Linked DNA regions of Homo sapiens. The protein of the gene in region 2 purifies or fractionates together with the protein of the main gene of each other region. This does not show direct contact. Each region holds a gene or a part of one and is shown on either strand. Other genes may lie near its edges. The genes, in order: ZBTB7A and ZBTB7C.

What was found.
Region 1: the proteins of ZBTB7C (region 2) and ZBTB7A purify together in Homo sapiens (affinity purification with mass spectrometry; one large-scale study listed by BioGRID and IntAct). This does not show direct contact.

Annotation. Positions count from the first base shown.
Region 1 is NC_000019.10:4,053,262-4,057,075, forward strand, and holds part of ZBTB7A (zinc finger and BTB domain-containing protein 7A), read right to left. Parts: intron 2,261-3,814; exon of another isoform or gene 2,248-2,260; coding exon of another isoform or gene 2,113-2,247; intron 1,987-2,112; coding exon of another isoform or gene 1,972-1,986; coding exon 710-1,971; intron 1-709. UniProt on the Homo sapiens protein: Transcription factor that represses the transcription of a wide range of genes involved in cell proliferation and differentiation.
Region 2 is NC_000018.10:48,035,070-48,038,883, reverse strand, and holds part of ZBTB7C (zinc finger and BTB domain-containing protein 7C), read left to right. Parts: intron 1-3,814. UniProt on the Homo sapiens protein: May be a tumor suppressor gene.

The DNA.
Region 1 (3,814 bases), on a different chromosome or scaffold from region 2:
TGTCCACCCACAAGGGCAGGGCCTGGTCTAGGCTGTTCTTAACAGCCACGTGGGTCAGGGAAGCGTTCGTTGGCTTTGGGCCCAAGAGGTGGGGTGTGTCTGTTTGCGTGTGTGTGCATATATGTGTGTCTGTGGGTGCATGTTTGCATGCATGTGCATGTATGTGTGCGCATGTACGTGTCTGTGTGCATGTGCCTGCATGCATGTCTGGGGGTGCGTGTGCATCTGTGTGCGTGCCTGGGTGTGCGTGTGTGCGTGCGTGCGTGCGTGCATGTGTATGTGATGTGTATGTGGTGTGCGTGTGTGTGCGCGCATGTCGGTGTGCGTGTGTGTGCGTGCATGTGTATGTGATGTGTATGTGGTGTGCATCTGTGTCTGCATGTGTCTGTGTAGCATGTCTGTATGTGTATGTGGTGTGCGTGTGCGTGTGTGCGTCTGTGTGTGTGCATGTGTACGTGGCATACGCGTCTGTGCATGTGTGTGCATGTGCGTATATATGTGCAAGTGCGTGTATGTGTGTCTGCGTGTGTGTGGATGTGTAGGTGACGTGCATGTGTCTGTGCGTGTACGTGTCTGTGTGCACGTGCGTGTATGTGTGCGTCTGCGTGCATGTGTGCGTGCGGTGCAGGGAGAGAGGCGGGAGGGGTCGTGAGCGGCGGATGCTGGGGCAGAGAGCAGGACGGCGCCTCCCCCGCGGCGGGCAGCTCACCTGGTGAAGCGGACCTTGCAGATGTTGCACTCGTAGGGCTTCTCGCCCGTGTGGGTGCGGATGTGTCGCGGCAGCTTGCCGGCGCCCTGGATGACCTTCTCGCAGATGGGGCACTTCTGGAAGGCCTTGGCTCGGATCTTCTTCTCCACCTTCTGCGACCAGGCCGGGTAGACGTCGCCGTCGTGGGCGCCGCTGAAGTACTTCAGGTAGTAGTCCATGACGCCCTTGTCGTCGGCCCGCGACTCCTCGTCGCTGTCCCCCGCCGCGGCCCCCGCCCGGCCCACCGATGACATCATCTGCTGCAGCAGCGTGCTGGCCGCCAGCCCGTCCACGTCGGGCCCGTCCCCGTCCTCGCCCTCGGCCGCTCCCGACAGGAAGCCCGGAGAGTCGCCCGGCTCGGGGGCCGCCTCCGACAGCGAGGCGGCCTCCTCCTCTCCGCCGCGGCCGTAGTGGCCGTTCTGCGTGGCGGCCGGCGGGGCCACCGGCGGCGGAAAGAGACCCCCGGTGGGGGCGTCCTCATCCCGCTCTGGCCACAGACCCGGGTTGCTGTCGCCCTCGTCCCCGTCCCCCGTCGGGGGCCGCTCGGCCGGGGGGCCCGGCCCATAGAAGTCTAAGCCGTTGCAGTCGCCCGCGGCCACGGCGGCCACAGCGGCGGCCACGGCCTCCTTGGTGGCATCCAGGTCATCATCGGACGCCCCAAAGGCGGACCACGGGAAGCTGGCAGCGGCGGCGGCGGCCGCGGGGGGCAGGCTGTTCATGGGGTTGCTCTGGAAGAACTCGAGGTACTCCTTGGCGCGGAGGAGGTTGCGCTGATCAATTTGATCTACAAGGTCCAGCTGCCCGGCGTCGGCGCCCGCGTCGGCCGCCAGGATCTGCCGGTCCAGGAGGTCGGCGCACACGTGGCTCACGGCGGGGATCTCCAGCAGGCGGGCGGCGCTGAGGATGTCACCCACGTTGGCTGTGCTGACGGTGAGCGTGGCCGTGTAGGCGAAGTCCATGAGCGCGGTGAGCGCCTCGGCGCTGACGAAGTCGATCTCGTACACGTTCTGCTGGTCCACCACGGCGCCCGACGTGAACAGCTTCTTGAAGTACTGGCTGCAGGCGGCCAGCACCGAGCGGTGCGTGGGGAACTCGCGGCCCTCCACCAGGATCACCACGTCGCACAGCAGGCCCTGCGTCCGCTGCTCGTTCAGCCCACTCAGGATGTCGCTGCTGTGGTCGGGGAACGGGATCCCGATGGGGCCGTCCACGCCGCCGGCCATCTTCCGCGCCGAGACCTGCAGCAGTGGGGAAGGAGAGGGCGCTCGTGAGTGGGGGTGCGGGGGTTCCTGTGCCCACTGACAAGGGCCCGAGGCCCTTGAGAAGCAGCGTTCCACCCTGCTCCCCCAGCCTCACATTCCCACCTGCACGTGAAGGCGGTCAGATGTCGCGCCTTTCCAGCCCCAGCTTCCCCAGCTGTGCACCAAAGCGATACATGCCCTGCCTCCAGCCTCTTTTCTTTTTTGTGTGTCTTTAATACAGAGACAGGCTATCACCATGTTGGCCAGGCTGGTCTCAAACCCCTGGCCTCGGCCTGGCGCGGTGGCTCACGCCTGTAATCCCAGCACTTTGGGAGGCCGAGACAGGCAGATCATGAGGTCAGGGGATGGAGACCATCCTGGCTAACACAGTGAAACCCCGTCTCTACTAAAAAATACAAAAAATTAGCCGGGCGTGTTGGCGGGGGCCTGTAGTTCCAGCTACTCGGGAGGCTGAGGCAGGAGAATGGCATGAACCCAGGAGGCAGAGCTTGCAGTGAGCTGAGATCACGCCACTGCACTCCAGCCTGGGCAACAGAGCAAGACTCCATCTCAAAAAAACAAAACAAATCAAAAAACCCTGGCCTCAAATGATCCAACCGCCCCTGCCTCCCAAGGTGCTAAGATTACAGGCATGAACCACGGCACCCGGCCAAGACTGTTTTCCATCTGTGCATGAGGATAGCCAGATGTCCCGGCTCCCCAGCCTCAGTTTCCCCAGCTGTTCCCAAGTGCAGTCAAATGTCCTATCCTCTAGCCTCAGTTTCCCCAGCTGTGCATGAGAATGGTCAGATGTCCTGCCTCCCCCAGCCTGTTTCCCCAGCTGTACACAAAAGCAATCAGACGTCATGTCCCCAGCCTCAGTTTCCCCAGCTGTACAGGAAGGCAATCAGGTGTCCCACTCCCAACCTGTTTCCCATCTGTACACAAGGGCGGCCAGCTGTCCTGCCCCCAGCCTCAATTTCCCCAGCTGTGCATGAGGACAGTCAGGTTTCCTGCCCCCCATCAGCCTCAGTTTCCCTAGCTGTGCCCAAGAGCAGTCAGATGCCCTGTTCTGTCTCATCAGCGTGAGATGAGGCTGGCAAAACCCACACTGGACGCTTAAATTTCACAAGCACACTGGCACCACCCCTCCGAGGAGGGCCCCCGGGAATGCCTGTTGAAAGGGCACTTTGAGGCCCGGCTCGGTGCTCACGCCTGTAATTCTAGCATTTTGGGGAGGCTGAGGTGGGCAGATCACTTGAGGTCAGGAGTTCAAGACCAGCGACCAGCCTGGCCAACATGGTGAAACCCTGTCTCTACTAAAAATACAAAAATTAGGCTGGGTGTGGTGGCTCACACCTGTAATCCCAGCACTTTGGGAGGCCGAGGCGGGCAGATCACCAGGTCAGGAGATCGAGACCATCCTGGCTGACACAGTGAAACTCTGTCTCTACTAAAAATACAAAAATAGATGGGCGTGATGGCACGTGCCTGTAATCCCAGCTACTCGGGAGGCTGAGGCGGGAGAATCGCTTGAACCTGGGGGGTGGAGGTTGCAGTGAGCCGAGATTGCACCACTGCACTCCTGCCTGGGCCACAGAGCGAGACTCCGTCTTAAAAAAAAAAATCAGCCAGGCGTGGTGGCGCGTGCCTGTAATCCCAGCTACTCAGGACGCTGAGGCAGAAGAATCGCTTGAACCCGGGAGGCGAAGGTTGTGGTGAACCTGGATGGAGCCACCGTACTCCAGCCTGGGCAACACAGCGAGACTCGGTCTGAAAAAAAAAAAAAAAGAAAAAGAAAAAGAAAAAAAAAAAGGGCTGGGCA
Region 2 (3,814 bases):
CCTGGCATCAGGGTTTGGTCATTTCAGTGTATCCTGTGTGTACAGAGCCTGGCGATGCCTGCCCTGTGAACATGACTTACTAGACTAGGTCCCTTCCCCACCCTGCCACTGTCCCTCTCAGAGAACTCACCTTGAGAGACCCACACTTGTTCCGGTGGCGGTGCTGCTGCCCCACTTCCTCTTGGAGATGTATCTTTGGGAATTGGTGGCAGCTCATTCTTTTGATTTTCCTCAGTGGGCCCAAAGCTTTGGCCCAAGGACACAGTGCAAGGTTGTGAATGAGACTGGATATCAAATCAGGGACTATGCTTTTCCAGGAAAAAAAAAAAAAAAAAAGATGAGTCCTCTAAAGTCATGAGACCTGTTCTTCTGGGTTGCTTGGAAACTACTGGAAGTTGCCAGAGAAGAGTTTCAGAAATCCATTCAGGTGACACTGGTGTGGCTGAAATAGCTCTGCAGGCTCCTCAGGGGACTGTTTTGAAGGAAACACTGATTATTTCCAAGGTGGCCTTGGGGTCCTGCTCACAGCTGCTTCTGTGAGGGGAACCCCAGACAGCATCTGTCCCAGGTGCTTCCAGTGACAGTAGAGGGAGAATCTGCAGGAGCAGAGGGGAAGGGCCTCACAGACCCAGGATGTGTTCCCTTGCCCTTAGCAGTGAGCTAGGCCAGCCACCCGGCAATGCTGACAGCAGGGCGCCCTGCTCCTGTTACTCCCCAGAGCAGATGGACCCAAGGTTCCTGAGATTCACCTCCCCTTGGATGTCCCTCAGTGACAGCCCTGCCACCCCAATGCCACCGTGGGTGATGCTGCCCCCTACCTCCTCCTGAATTCACCTTAGCCCCACAGAACCAGGCAGAACACCTGAACAAGGCTTGGCAAAAGCACAGGAATACCGAGGGAGATAAGCCAGAGCACCGTGTGAAAGCCAGATTCAAGTACAGCTCACCCATCTTCACGGGGGGCCTGGCTTCAGCCCGAGAGTCCCAGCCCCTGCATATGACTTTAAGGATGCCAGGAAGCTCTTCACAGGCCAGATCAGGAAAGCCAGCCATGTTATCAGCCTGGAGCGCCCTCTCCTGCCAACGCAGGCTCTGCCTCCCTAACTGCCCATGCCTGCCCCCTTGGCAGATGGCTAACAGGAGCACCTCTCCCTTCAGGGGAGACCGAGGCTGGTGACTCCAATTCCAAAAGGATCTATCTGTGTCTCAGGATATCGCACGGTGGCCCTGCTGGCACCCTGAGACCCCATCTCCCTTCTTCCCCACTCCCTTTCCTCTGGGCCTTCCCCACGCACAGCCTTCTGTGAGGTCCACGCCAGGTCTGGACAGTCTGTGCACCCTGTTTTAAGGGAAGGTTTTAACCGTGCGTAGTCACTGCAGACAGACTTCTCACCCTCTGGACCCTGGGACATTCTCTGGGAGTGGGCGTCCTGGTTTGGGCAGCAGTGCTGTGTTGTATAGGAGGGTGACATTCCAGGTTCCTCCCTCCCAGCACATTCCTGATGGTCACTTGGGGTGGCCTCTCTGTCTGCAGTCCCCACTCCCAGCCAGATGATAGGCAGTGGGGCAGCTCTGGTCATCCAGCCATCTGGCCTTGGGTTCCTCCTGCTCCAGAATGACGGCCATCTGGCCCCAGGCCTGTCTCCAGCTGAAGCTGCTGCATTGCAGCCCCCTCAGCACCCCCACCACTTGTTCCCACTGGTCTCTGACCCTCCCGAAAAAGATCAGACAAGCTCTTGGGTCCTTCTCTTCCCAGGAGGAGAGAAACCCCGAGCTGGGGAAAGGCAGGGTGGAGGAGATGGCTCCAGCCTGCCTCCCTTCAGAGGCTTTATTGCTCACTGTGGGCTGTGGCTGTCCTTGTGGGACACTCCCCACTCTCCTCCCCCTCACATTCTTCAGAATCACTGGGCCTTTGCTTCTCACCCCATCTCTGGAACTGCCCGGCAAGGATTCTTTTCCGTGCTTGAAGAGCCCCAAGCGTGGTCTGTCCAGGTTGAGGTTTTCCTGTAATTCTCCCTGTGGCCAAGGCTCCCTGCAGCCTTTCCACGGGGACCTTATTTTTGGCTGAATTCCCCAACGCGATTCCTAACACCTGCCCCTTCCACCTGGAAGCTCTTCAGCAGCCACTTAGAGCAGAGACGGCTGCCTCGTTGACGCAGAATTCCCAGACTCCCTTCCAAGGCCACGCCACTTCCTGAGACTGGGCCCTGTCATGTCACTCTTGTCCCCGCAGCAAGGACCCAGACATGCTGCCCTCAGGTCCTTCTCTCGGACATGATTTCCATTTCCCCTTCTGGAACCCGAGTCTTTCCTTCATCACAGCTGAGCTTCTGCCCTGGCAAAGCCCCATTTCCTCCCTCCTTGATGTTGGGAAGAGCTCAGGGTCTTGTGACACCCTCCCCGCCCCACCCCATGGGGTGCTGGAGAGGCCTGCCCTTCCCCTGCATGGTAGCCCTTCAGCCCAGGCTCTGAGTCACAGCCTCCCAGATGCCAGCTCCCAGAATGTCCACACCCCACGGGGACGTACTAATGACCTCAGCAGCCACAACCCAGGGGGAGGACATGGGAATCCTTCCAGCAGAGCCCCTTCACCCCTAAGGCCCTGCCTGCTGCTGTCATTCTGTGGGTCTAGAGAGGAGGGACAGAGGCCGCCCCACAATGGTATTGTCTGTTCTTTGGTGTCAGGAACCTCACCTCTGAGGCAGCTCTAGATTCCAGCCAGTCCTACCAGGTGTCCCACCACTGATCTGTTCCAAATATGAAATCTCCCTAGGCAGGGCCTCAACGGCATCAACCAAACTATTTCTTTGGCCCCATGCTGTCCCTTCCTAGCTCTGGTCACCCCATAGCCACTTGGGCTCCCTTTGCCTGTGCACTCCCTCGGTTTAGTTCAAAGACACCGTTTTCCTCCTGGGAAAGGCTTGTGCCTGTGCTGGCCACAGAGGCAGCTCCTGTCCCTTTCAGGTCTGACTTGGGACACAGAAACAGCTCCAGGTCATAGGGCAGAGGCAGTCTGGACCAAGATTACCTTAGATCCTCTTCATCAGGAATCCTTTCCCTTCTCTTCCCAGAAAGTCTGGAAGCCAGGAGCCAAAGGTTAGGATGGCAGGCTTCGGCCAGAGGTGATGCCTAGGAAGGGCCTAGAAGAACAGGGAGCATGTGATCTCAGGAAGATAAAGCATTTGTCTTCATGCACAGGGACACTGCTATGCTTGGTGGGTATTTTCCCTGCCCACGGACATCCCAGGTCCAGGTGGCCCCCGCACACCTTTTTGCCCCATCTGCAGCCATCACTGCCAACTGGGCCTGGCCCTGGGCCCTGTGAAAGCCTGTGCATCTTCCGCCTCTTAATTCCCACCACATGGGTCCTTGATTGCAGGCCATAGAGACTTGCCCCTTGCCTCCCCCAGCCCTTCTGTTAGTAGCTCCTAGAGAGCATGGCTGGCTGGTCTCCCTCCTGGAGCCCCTGCATCCTGTCACAGCCTGGCTCCCAGAGATGCCCCAGCCATGCCTGATGGGGACAGTAGTGAAGGCAAGAAACTGCAAAATGAAAACAGACTGGCCCAGAGACAGCAGAGGTCCCATAGAGCACACCGTCCTGGGTGGGGATGGACGACCTCTGCACCGCAGTCACTCTCTGACAAGGCACGCTTTCCAGTTCCGCTGAACCCCGAAGGCTGTGCCTTTTAGTCTCCACCTGCCTCCTCCAGTGCCAGCCGAATGCTGACCACCTTTGTGCCCCCACAGCTGCCTGCTCTCCAGATAAGCCAGCAGCCTGGCTTTTGTCTTCCCTCTATTTTCTTTGTAGTCCTCC